Regions from separate parts of the Homo sapiens genome. Here all the other regions are reported to be linked to region 2. Evidence: microRNA targets listed by miRTarBase, many of them from high-throughput screens and not tested one by one. Region 2 holds a microRNA gene; each other region holds the end of a gene's coding sequence.

Region 1 (4,000 bases), not on the chromosome of region 2:
GGCTGGTCTTGAACTCCTAACCTCATGATCCACCCCCATCAGCCTCCCAAAGTGCTGGGATTACAGGCAAGAGCCACCGCGCCCAGCCCATAGAACTTATTTTTGTCATTAGGATGAAGAATGTGAGATGATCTTAAGGCCTAGCAAAGCTGTGGGAAATACACAGGAGGGCCAAGGAAGAACATGAACGGAATTTAAAGTAGAATCAGAAGGTAAACAGATTTGCTGAATCACAAAGGTTTAATGATAAATGTAGGTAAATGAGGAAGAAAACATGATAATGGGATGGGTTTACAGTCTTGCAGGCTCAAATCAACTGTGAGAATCAGGTAATGTGCAACCTGAATCCCTAGAAAGGTGTGGCTTGAAGTCTCTATGGGGACAGCCCCTATAAATGGAGACTCAGCCCATGCCTCCTTATGAAGAGAATCACCCTGGATATGAGTGTCCTAGATCTTATGCCCAGCTCCCAGTTACTTGTCATATGCAACCTCCATACACTGAGAGGGTGACATCCACTAGCTTAGGATGGTAAAATTGTTTCCTTAGTCAATGCTACGGCTTCAGTGTTTGTGTGGGGGGCGCCTCCGCCCAGCCAGCCGACCAGTCCGGGAGGTGGGGGGCGCTTCTGCCCGGCCGCCCCTACTGGGAAGTGAGGAGCCCCTCTGCCCGGCCACCACCACGTCTGGGAGGTGTACCCAACAGCTCATTGAGAACGGGCCATGATGACGATGGTGGTTTTGCGGAATAGAAAAGGGGGAAATGTGGGGAAAAGATAGAGAAATCACATTGTTGCTGTGTCTGTGTAGAAAGAAGTAGACATGGGAGACTTCACTTTGTTCTGTACTAAGAAAAATTCTTCTGCCTTGGGATGCTGTTGATCTATGATCTTACCCCCAACCCTGTGCTCTCTGAAACATGTGCTGTGTCCACTCAGGGTTAAATGGATTAAGGGCGGTGCAAGATGTACTTTGTTAAACAGATGCTTGAAGGCAGCATGCTCGTTAAGAGTCATCACCACTCCCTAATCTCAAGTACCCAGGGACACAAACACTGCGGAAGGCCGCAGGGTCCTCTGCCTAGGAAAACCAGAGACCTTTGTTCACTTGTTTATCTGCTGACCTTCCCTCCACTATTGTCCTATGACCCTGCCAAATCCCCCTCTGCGAGAAACACCCAAGAATGATCAATAAAAATAAAAAAATAAAAAATAAAAAATAAAAGAAATATACAGCATCCTGAGATGATACAAGTTAGAGATGAGAAATAGCATTGCTAGAAAATGAAGATAATTACAGTTAAGACAGAAGAAGTAAGACCTGGTGTTCAATAGATCAGTAGGGTAACTAGAGTTAATACTAATCTACTGTACATTTCAAAATAGCTAGAAGAGAGTAATTTGAATGTTACTAGCATAAAGGTAAATGTTTAAGGTGATGGATATCCCAATTACACTGATTGATTATATGAATATATCAAATTACCACATATACCCTGACAATATTTACATCTATTATGTATCAATAAGTTTTTTTTTAAGAATCAAAAAAAGGAAAGAAAGTGTAGATATTCTAAGAGAGGACACTGTGCATTATAGAATTATAGTTCCTTTTCAAATTAAATCCACCCATCTCTGTGCCTAATGGCTGGCTTATGGCCAGGAGGGGTGTCATCCAAAATAACAGACAGCATCTGAAGAAAAAACGTGAAGTTGGGTTTGTGTTCCTTTCCCTAGTACGCTGATTCTGACATACTAGTGTACAGGAGAATAAACTAGAATGTTTAATAAAACTAAAATTCCTGGGCCCTCCTTCCTGAGACTCTGATTCAGTAGGTCTGGGGTGGGGTCAGCAACCTGGATTAATAACAGGGATCACACTGAACTCTGATACAGCTCTTCTGTATGGCAGTGCTTCTCATACTGTAATGTGCATACAAATCTCCTGGAGACCTTGCTAAAATGCAGATTCTGATTCAACACGCCTGGGACAGGACAAAACCTAGGATTCTGCCTTTTTTTTTTTTTTTTTCTGAGACAGGATCTTCAGTCCAAGCTGAAGTGCAGTGGCACTATCATAGCTCACTGTAACCTTGAACTCCCAGGCTCAAGCAATCATCATACCTTAGCCTCCCGAATAACTGAGACTACAGGTGCGTGCCACCATGCCCTACTAACTTTTTGAAATTTTTCTGTAGAGACAAGGTCTTGCCATATTGCCTAGGCTGGTCTCAAACTCCTGGCCTCAAGCGACCGTCCCACCACAGCAACTCAAAAGCGTTGGGATTACAGGTGTGAGCCACTGTGCCCAGCCCGGGTTCTGCATTTCTAACAAGCCCCAAGATGATCCCAATGCTGGTGATCTATGGACCACACTTGGAGTAGCTCACTGTTGACCGTTTTGGGATAAAAAGATTCTGATGCAGGCAGAAAGGGCAGGTGGAGAACTTACCTTCAACACTGATATACCTTTCTCTCTGTAAGGAGACGGGCATTCCCTCATCAAACAGCGTTTTTACTGACATCCCTGTCCCAAATATAGATCAGGAGGCTGAAGTCCAGTGAAACACAATGACCAACCCTGGGTCACCTAGGATGGTGGTATGTTGGCTTCACCACAAATTGTGGGAGTTTTAAATCACACTGTACTGGTGGGATTTGCCAACACTAAACCAAATGTTCATCTGGGTCTTGGCTGCAATTTTAAGAACTTCATTAGAAGGTCATAATTCCTAAGTGCTGGCACTGCTGGCATAGAAGCTGAAGCATCTCCTTTGCATGTGAAGAGAATCTATCTCCACCTATGTGTCTGAAATAATCCAGATGTGGTACTAAGGGCATCGGGCTGGCCTCAGATAGCTCAGATCCAAGAAGACTGTGGAATTACTGCAAGGGGTTTGAGAATCTATGGACAATGTTTTTCTATATATGTACTACTATTTTTAAAAGGCATATGGACATTATTAAAATAAATTTTAAAAACACCTTCAGTGTAAACACATTCAGGTTAGGGGATACTGTATGCTCTCTCATTTAATGGAAATTAAAAAACAATCACATATCACTTGGGGTCTTTACAATACTTTGACATTAAAAAGGGTCCTTGTCTTCTAGAACGTATGCTAGAAGTGGTTTGTCATAGGAAAATTCAAACTCTCTGGCATTTCAGAGAATAAATAGTATATATATCATTATTAAATATGTTTAACAAAAATCATGCTCAAGTTCTAAGTGACTACATTTCTCATTTTGTAAATCAAGGAAGAAAATACTGCAGAATTCAACCTGAAATGTTTTAATAGTGGAACTGTGTACAGGATCCTCTAAAGAGACCGCCTGGCTGGGTGCTCAAACCACATGGGCCGACCCAAAAGACGCCAAAACCAAGAGCTGCTCAGGAGGCACTAAATGTTGACGGTCTTGGCCGGCTTCACATCCTCAATTTCAGCAGACAGCCAGCGGTAAGTGCGATGACGCCGCAGCACCTCAATGGCCTTGAGTTCCAGTGGTGTTGCCTGAATACCAAGGTCTTCTAAGCCAGGCAGGTGAGGCAATTTCATGTCTGTGATGTGCATCTTTGGATAAACAAAGGACCACAGACAATGCTGAAAACTGGCTGAGAACAAAGTGCTATCCTAGCAGGCACTTAAACATTCAAGCTGGCATGAGTCCTATTATTGAGACTTAATTGCTTTCAAAGAATATGTGGCAATTTTCGATTCATGCAAATCACTATAAAAGCAGAACACACAAAGAGGGCTTAAGACAAAAGAGGGCGAGATCACCAAGTATCAGATCGAGGTCCCCAGTGGCAGCCGCGAGCACAGGATGTTGGCACTACATGAGCCATTCTATATACAGATTTCAACAGAAATAAATCTAGGGCAGGGAAGCACAAGTCACCACACTTGCCAGGGGAGGCTGAACAGGAGGGTTTAGGAATAAAATCAGGGCTTAAGCAGAGCTGGTCCATTCCTCAGTCCTCTCACGCCCCTGTTTTCT
Region 2 (4,737 bases):
GAAGACCAATATAATTGCATCAGTATTCTCCCTAATCCTAATAACCTCCCTCACCCGCCCACCACACACACACACACACACACACACACACATGTTTTTCCTTATTAATTGGTCTTTGAGTTAATGGCCTGAGACACTTTCAAATGGAACATGATGGTCCTTTATGCAGTTAGAACTCTGGCAAGAGAACAGTCACTTTGTTGGGGTAGACCCATTGATTTGGTGCTAGAATGTTTCAGATGTAGATTAGATAGGAATCGAGTGGGACTGACTCAAAGGCACTATTTATTAGCTCACATGCCCTACCTAATCTTAGCTGATGTGTCTGTTGTTTGCTTCTAGTACTCAGGTGTATTTACCAATGTTCATCTGTAGCCATAAGTTACTTAGTATACCCTCTGACTTTCTTGAAAGTCTGACCTTTCCCCCTCTATGACTTCTAGGAGAATAAAATGGAAATATATACATATTCCTTTTTTTTTTTTTTTTGAGACAGAGTCTCCCTCTGTTGCCTAGGCTGGAGTGTAGTGGCTCGATCTCACCTCACAACAACCTTCACCTCCCGGGTTCAAGTGATTCTCCTGCCTCAACCTCCCAGATAGCGGGGATTACAGGCGTGCACCACCATGCCTGGCTAATTTTTGTATTTTTAGTAGAGACAGGGTTTCTCCATGTTGGCCAGGCTGGTCTCAAACTCCTGACCTCAGATGATCCACCTGCCTCAGCCTTCCAAAGCGTTAGGATTACAGGCATGAGCCACCATGCCTGGCCCAATATATACATATTCCTGTTGCTTGGCCATGATCTAAAAACTTGAAGGGGCTATCTGCCAGAAGGTTTTGGGATGATATCTGTTCAGTTCTGAAGGCAAGTCTGTGCATATCTCATCCCTCACTGACTTTTGCAGCCACTTCTATACTAATAACGTTGCCTTCTACCCTGAACGCTGAACTGTCCTATTTTGGAGGCTCTTACGGGTTAGTTCCCCAGAAACCATCTGTTCCAAATGTGCTTGATTTCAGCTTAGGACTTTCCAGAAAAGCCTTCCTTGACTTAGAAGAAAGATAACATTCATTGATCTTGCTATGCTCCCATCTCATCACTTCCATTTTCCTCCCCAGGGACACAACAGTCATCAGTCACTCTCCTAACACCAGCTATGACACAGCTCTAGAAGCTCGCATCCAGAAAGAGGAGGAAGAAATCTTGATGGCCAATAAGCGTTGCCTTGACATGGAGGGCAGGTAAAATGTTGTTCTGGACCCTGAGGAATCTGAGACATTGATATAGAGACCACATAGGATCTTTATTCACAGCTAGGAAATCTGATCATGCAGCCTCCCCGCTCCACCATCACCCCTGCCAGCCTGTCACTTAAAGGTGTGAGATGCAATGACCTTTACCTTGATAATCTCCACTAAACATGGAATTCCAGGTAGGGTTTCTGTCCCTTTGGCCTTCCTAATTGCTTTTCCTCTTCCCTCTGCCTGAGCTGAATTGTTGGCATTTGCACTCTGGAGTATTCTTTCTAGCACTGCACCACAACCCTGTGATACAGCAGATTGCTTAATAAAAGAGTAAAAGAACATCTGCTCGGCCGGGCACAATGGCTCACACCTGTAATCCCAGCACTTTGGAAGGCCAAGGCGGGCGGATCACCTGAGGTCAGGAGTTCAAGACCAGCCTGGCCAATATGGTGAAACCCTGTCTCTACTAAAAATACAAAAATTAGCCAGGTGTGGTGGCGGGCACCTGTAGTCCCAGCTACTCAGGAGGCCGAGGCAGGAGAATTGCTTGAGCTTGGGAGGCAGAGGTTGCAATGAGTCAAGATCATGCCATTGCACTCCAGCCTGAGCGACAGAGCTAGAGTCCGTCTCAACAACAACAACAAAAAGAACATCTACTCAAAGTGGAGGTAGGATACCTGATTCCTTTTATAAACACATGATCATTTACTTACTACCTGCAGGTTGTCGCTCATTCATAGATCTCATCTTCTCACTGAGTAAATTGTTTCCATTGACTGAGATTCTTCACTACAGCACCTAGTACATCAGTTCATTCTCTCATATTCAGCCTTTTTTTTCACTGGTACTTTATTGTGACTTACTAAGATTTAAGCAACAGCTCCTGGATGCTCTGCTGTATCCATTTGGGTGTGCAGAAAAAAGAAAAAACATGTTTTAAAAACTGTAGCACACCATCCCTTGTTTTCCAACTCAGAACTAACTAGATCAGCCTTTAGTCGAAAAGATAATGGGAGCTCCACGTAGTCATGTAGTCAATTAGACCAAAATGTGGAGGTAGCAAGAAGGTTTTTTTTTTTTTTTTTTTTTTTTTGAGATGGAGTCAGTCTTGCTCTGTCACCCAGGCTGGAGTGCAGTGGCACTATCTTGGCTCACTGCAACCTCCGCCTCCCAAGTTAAAGTGATTCTCCTGCCTCGGCCTCCCGAGTAGCTGGGACTATAGGCGCCTGCCACCACACCCAGCTAATTTTTGTGTTTTTAGTAGAGACAGGGTTTCACCATGTTGGCCAGGCTGGTCTCGAACTCCTGACTTTGCAATCCGCCCACCTCGGCCTCCCAAAATGCTGGGATTACAGGCGTAAGCCACCGCGCCCAGCCCACAACAAGGTCTTTATATGTTCTTTGCCTTTGGCTCCTAGGATTAAGACCCTCCATGCCCAGATTATTGAGAAGGATGCCATGATCAAAGTACTCCAGCAGCGTTCCCGGAAGGAGCCGAGCAAGACAGAGCAGCTGTCGTGCATGCGGCCAGCGAAGTCTCTGATGTCCATTTCCAATGCTGGATCAGGCTTGCTCTCCCACTCATCCACCCTGACTGGCTCCCCCATCATGGAAGAAAAGCGAGACGACAAGAGCTGGAAGGGGAGCCTAGGTAATGACAGTAAATAAGGAAGATTATAGTCACGTGTTCAAAGAGAGCCCTGAGATAAGCACCCATGCTTAAGGAAAAGGGATGATGGTCCAGGTTCTAGAGAGGAAGGTGTACCAGGGTTTTGGAGTTTTTTTTTCCTCCTGAGACCCTAGTTCCACATTCTGGAGCTCCTCCACACTTTGAAGTCTCCCGGTGAGAATACCGATTGAGGCCAAGGCTTAGAGGACAAGAATCTTGAGTTTCATTTGGGTGTCAAGGAAGATAACTCTAATTTCCTCTAAACTATTCTCAGATTTGGCCTTTGCCATGTGGCACCTTTATCTTTCTCCAAAGCCCATGTGGCCTTTGTGTCGTTCCAAATGTCAAAATTCCGGCATTTCTGTGTTCCTTCCTCCTCTATAATAGGAGAACCCAGAGTTTTAGTTACACTAAATCGTTTGGGTAGCAGGTTTTGTTCCCACAGTGTTGTGAGATGAGAACAGAATGTACTTTTTCATTCCGTTCCTGTCCATTCCCTCCCCTCTAATCAAAACCCCAGACATATTGTGGATACCACGAGGCACATTTTTAGAGCCCGAGGAAGGAAGCTTATATATATTTTTATTTTAACCCTTTTTGTTGCTGTTAATTCCTTTCTTGGTCCTCTGATACTTGTAATATCTTTTGGTTAGAATAAGCATTTTGGGGACTATGGTCATGGTGAGAACCTCAGATCACACAATTATTACCACACTCAATCTGTGTCAACAGACTTCTTCCCCAGATCCTTTCTTGCTCCCTGGTAACGTGTGGTAATGGTTTATAAGTGGAGCCGAGTAGGAGCATTCTGACAACTTGGTGGAACCCAATCACCATTGGAAAAATAAATCAAAACAGATACCCAGGTCACTTACAGGCTTAATATGTTGTGCCAGGTGATGGATGAGGACCAGAAGGGATCCTCGAAGTCTGTAGGAAACTTTTAGCCATGGTTGGAGGAGCCTCACACACTGATTTCTGGGTTCCCTGGAGGCAAAAATAAATAACTTAGACTATTCTAAATTATTTAATATTTAAAAATAATAATATTTTAAATATTTAAATAATATTTACTTATTTAAAAATAAATAAATTTCTTCTGAAATTTGAATGGGAGAACAGGTAATTAGATGTCTGGATTTGAATCACCTATTGTTTTCTAACATCTGTTCCTCTTTCATTTGTAGGCATTCTCCTGGGTGGAGACTACCGTGCTGAATATGTCCCTTCCACACCCTCGCCTGTGCCACCCTCGACTCCCCTGCTCTCGGCTCACTCCAAGACAGGCAGCCGAGACTGCAGTACCCAAACTGAACGTGGGACGGAATCGAACAAAACTGCAGCTGTTGCTCCCATCTCTGTTCCTGCTCCAGTTGCTGCTGCCGCCACTGCTGCCGCCATCACTGCCACTGCTGCCACCATCACCACCACCATGGTAGCTGCTGCTCCAGTTGCTGTTGCTGCTGCTGCTGCTCCAGCTGCTGCTGCTGCCCCGTCTCCAGCCACTGCCGCTGCTACTGCTGCTGCTGTTTCTCCAGCTGCTGCTGGTCAGATTCCAGCTGCTGCCTCTGTTGCCTCAGCTGCTGCCGTTGCTCCTTCTGCTGCTGCTGCTGCTGCTGTTCAGGTTGCTCCAGCTGCTCCGGCTCCAGTTCCAGCTCCGGCTCTGGTTCCGGTTCCAGCTCCAGCAGCGGCTCAGGCTTCTGCTCCTGCTCAGACTCAGGCACCAACTTCAGCTCCGGCTGTGGCTCCAACTCCAGCTCCAACTCCAACTCCAGCTGTGGCTCAGGCTGAGGTTCCTGCAAGTCCAGCTACCGGTCCTGG
Region 3 (4,000 bases), not on the chromosome of region 2:
TTGGAGCAGCACCCCCACCGCAGGTGGCATTGAAGGGAGCGTGAAGCTGCACGAGGGGTCTCAGGTCCTGCTCACGAGCTCCAATGAGATGGGTACTGTTAGGTATGTGGGCCCCACTGACTTTGCTTCAGGTATCTGGCTTGGACTTGAGCTCCGAAGCGCCAAGGGAAAAAATGATGGGTCAGTGGGTGACAAGCGCTATTTCACCTGTAAGCCGAACCATGGAGTCTTAGTTCGACCGAGCAGAGTGACCTATCGGGGAATTAATGGGTCAAAACTTGTGGATGAGAATTGTTAAGCTTCTAAAATATTAAATAAGCTCAAATATATATATTTGGTGTAAATAAAGAGTCCATGGTAAATGGTTTACTTTATTTAGCCATATTAAAATTTTGAAAATATAGTTATCTTCTTAAAAACCATTATAACAATTCAGAGAGAGTTCTTTACAAAGCCATGAATATGAACTATGGGGAATCATGGTTCTTTTAAAGCAATTTTCAAAATAAGTACCAATTAAAGCTTTAGGTTCCAAGAAGATTCTGGGACTCAGGAAGAAAAAGTGCCATCAGGTGACCAGCTGTTGCATTTCTTGCTTATTCTGTTTTGTTTTTGCACATCATAATGGATTTTTCTTAGTGCCCTAATTGTGAAGGGTTTCTCTAGCTTTGGTTATGTGTAATGTTCACGTGACCTTTTTTTGTCAATCATTTTTGGAATTTTTCTTTCTTTCTGTGCTTTATTACTAATAAGTCCAATGAGTGAGTAGTAGCTAGATGACTAGTATGTAGTTTTATATTTTGGTAAAATTATTTGCCCTTTCAGAAATGCCTCATCTAAAGATACATGATAATTTTGGAGTTGGAAGGGGCCTTAGAGGCTCTCCAGCTCTGCTTCTTGCCCATTGCCAAATACTGAAATGGAAGCCCGTCTTACCTGGGGTCACTAACTGGTTGGTTAACTGAGCTAAGAATAGACTGTGGGTCTCCTCACTTGTGGCCCAGTGCTCTTTCTGCTATACAAAATGTCTAATCTCAGATTTTTCTTCTGCTGCTTGACTGCTTCATCTGGATGAACTACAAAAAACCCATGATTAAGGTTTATGAATTCAAGTAATAATTAGATTTTTTTTGCACAGACTTACTTAACTTCCTTATTGGATATGTTTGTAACACATAAACACAAAGCACTTTTCAAACATGATGCACTTTTATCTTTGTGAATAATTTACTGTCCTTTCCTCCTGGGATATGAGAAACATTTTAAAAAACGTATTTAACAGAAGAGAGCAAATAAAGATATATCAGGAAGGATGTATTAGTTATTTACTTAAATGTTTATAATATCTGGATTTTTTTTGTTTTGTTACTCATAGAACTGGTGTTGTTTGCTGTTTTTATTTCTCTAATTGTTGCAGAGTTCTGCCTGTTACAAAGCTACAGAACTGTATTGTTTTTATTTTCCTTCTTGAGCACATGTTAACAAACTAAGCTTCACATTAGAGTGATGTCATAATGTAAAATGTTTGCATTGTGGTTAGGTATTGAAGTTTATGTCCTGTCTGTGTAAAGATTCATCTTTTATTGTAAATATTTAGACTTTACCACAGAAATATTGGAACAGTTTGCTTTATAAGATTAAAAAGCATCCTTCAGAATGGAGCTTGCCTTGTGCTTAGAAATAATATGTTGAACTATTTTGCAATATACTATTTTAAATCTAAATTCTGTCACTTCGCTGCCTTTTTAAAATAGTGTGGTATTTCAAATATTGCTAGAGCTATTTTCCTGAAATACATTTGCAAAATAAGGCTGCTTTGTAATCAAGGAATATTTTTATTGATTGAAGGAAATGACTGTACTGCGATTCAAAAGTAAACTTATTTTATTATACAGATTATTTCTTAAAAACTCTATTTATACCTTAACATGAAATCCATGACCACACCAAACTTGGTTATTCATAATTTTTCCTGTTAAATATAAAACACTGTAAGTTAAAAACAGTAATGCCAACATTGAATTTATTTTTGAGGTCAAAGAACCAGTTGTTCTCTTTATATTTAGATGAGGATGATTGAGTCCATATACTATGTATGTTTACATATACTATACATGCACATTAGGTGTTTTCATTTGTGTTTTGCTTATGAAATGTCATTTAAAGTTCACTTCTTGAGCATCAATAAAAAGGGAAGCTGTGTGGTTTTGGAATGGTATCTTGTCATTTACCCTATTTGCAACTCTGCTTTTCTCAGTAACTCAGGGTGCATATGCTTTGAACTTTTTCCTCACGGTAATGGCTTGGATTTGTCCTGTCCCTATAAAGAGTATTAAAAAGTATCATGCTTTCTACTCAACAGTCTATGTTCATAGCCACCATCCTATTAGTATTGTTTTGATGAATAGTGAGTCATTTAAGAAAAGAACGTATTTCTACAGTTGGGATTTCACTTGTTTATTTAGGGTAGGATGGAACACTTTGAATTTAGATTAAAAAATAGAAATAATTAGCTGCCTTTTACTAAAAAACTTTGTTTTTATATTTAGGGTGATTTGGGGGGAATATTTTTAAGTATGTAAGAATGTTGAGTACTGCTGTTTGCTAACTGTGAACTCTGGTGTTGTAATCTTGTTGTGAGTCTCTGGCACCTCCTCCCAAGAGCTCCTTGTTTCCCTCTCATGTTTTATTTTTCTCTTTAGCATTTGGTCATGCTTATTACTGATTACAACTTCTTGCTTATTATTTCTTTCTTCCTTCACGAGATTGAGGAGTGGATTTTTGACTGTTTTGTTCACCACTTTATCCCCAACACCTAGAATAATACTTGGTACCTAGTAGATGCTCGGTTTTGTTGAGTGAACAAAGGCAGTAAAGGCCATTGATTGTTGGAAATAGAGATAGTATCTAGCTAGCTTCACACAAGGGGCCTTGCAAGACTAGGCCACAGAACAGGTAAATTTTCTTAGACACGAAAGGAGGAAGGAGGACAAGAAAAGTTTGAATCCAGGAGCCCAACTTACCCCTGAAGAGTGCCGTGTAAGAGACAACAGATGCTGAGTGGCGCAGCAGTAGGGAATGGGGAGGAAAGACGCAGCAGGACCACCTGGGGCAGCTCCCTTTCCCTTCTGCCTGGGGCTAACTTTGAATTCCTATTTTAATATGATGATAATTTAGAGAATATGGTAATACATGTGGTCTAATATGGAGAGAATGAACTGGATCATACTCAAGTGGGGATAACGTTGATCTCCAGTATTAAATATATATCTCTATCTATCTATATATATATTTTTTGAGGCAGGGCCTCGCTCTGTCACCCAGGCTGTAATGCAGTGGCGGGATCTCGGCTTACTGCAACCTCCGCCTCCTGGGTTCAAGTGATTCTCCTGCCTCAGCCTCCCGAGTAGCTGGGATTACAGGCACCCACCACCATGCCCAGCTAATTTTTTGTATTTTTAGTAGAGATGAAGTTTCACCATGTTGGCCAGGCTAGTCACGAACTCCAGACCTCAGGTGATCCACCTGCCTTGGCCTCCCAAAGTGCTGAGATTACAGGTGTGATCCACCGTGCCTGGCTGTGTTAGATATTTTTATTTCAGAGTTTTATTTTGAGGCTCCCTTTTTAGAATGTGTGATAATATTATTTAAACCACATCAACCAATGGCTAGAAGCCTATTGTGTTAAAATCATTCTTAATTGAGAAATAGTTCTAGTAATTTTAACTACTTACCAGATGGATATTTGTTATCTAAGTAACAAATGACTAAATGACTCAGAGACATATAATATTCATAGCCACATTGCAAGCCAATAGAAGGATTAATTTATTTTTTTCATGCCCTTTCCTTCACTTATTTATAATACAAATACAGTGGTTAATACAAAACTCACGTTATCGTGTATATTTTTAGTAATTGTTTAGTATCCCTTGGTACACAGGCCTTATTTACAAACAATGTCACATATACTGTTTGATTATAAAATAAACATTCCTAA

Evidence for each region. Region 2 holds the annotated microRNA hsa-miR-4329 (CCUGAGACCCUAGUUCCAC, at 3,038-3,056, shown strand). A microRNA usually pairs through its seed, bases 2 to 8, with sites in the 3' UTR of a target mRNA and lowers its output. Matches are read on the target gene's strand: a 7mer-m8 pairs with bases 2 to 8, a 7mer-A1 pairs with bases 2 to 7 and ends in A, and an 8mer does both.
Region 1: the mRNA of NDUFA9 is a reported target of hsa-miR-4329. Seed matches in the 3' UTR shown: 7mer-m8 at 2,140-2,146, 8mer at 2,030-2,037 and 7mer-m8 at 1,815-1,821.
Region 3: miRTarBase lists CLIP4 as a target of hsa-miR-4329. Seed matches in the 3' UTR shown: 7mer-A1 at 1,033-1,039.

Annotation. Positions count from the first base shown.
Region 1 is chr12:4,686,511-4,690,510 of GRCh38, reverse strand. It overlaps NDUFA9 (NADH:ubiquinone oxidoreductase subunit A9), which reads right to left. Exons shown (of 11, transcript NM_005002.5): 11 at 1-3,573. The coding sequence ends at 3,403. Among named protein-coding and RNA genes, the nearest start is that of GAU1, 32 kb to the left of the region's middle.
Region 2 is chrX:112,779,047-112,783,783 of GRCh38, reverse strand. MIR4329 (microRNA 4329) reads left to right here and starts at 2,996; the gene lies at 2,996-3,066. It overlaps AMOT (angiomotin), which reads left to right. Exons shown (of 14, transcript NM_001113490.2): 11 at 1,122-1,244; 12 at 2,666-2,898; 13 at 4,104-4,737. RefSeq lists an enhancer at 3,891-4,391.
Region 3 is chr2:29,181,596-29,185,595 of GRCh38, forward strand. It overlaps CLIP4 (CAP-Gly domain containing linker protein family member 4), which reads left to right. Exons shown (of 16, transcript NM_024692.6): 16 at 1-2,213. The coding sequence ends at 298. Among named protein-coding and RNA genes, the nearest start is that of CLIP4, 68 kb to the left of the region's middle.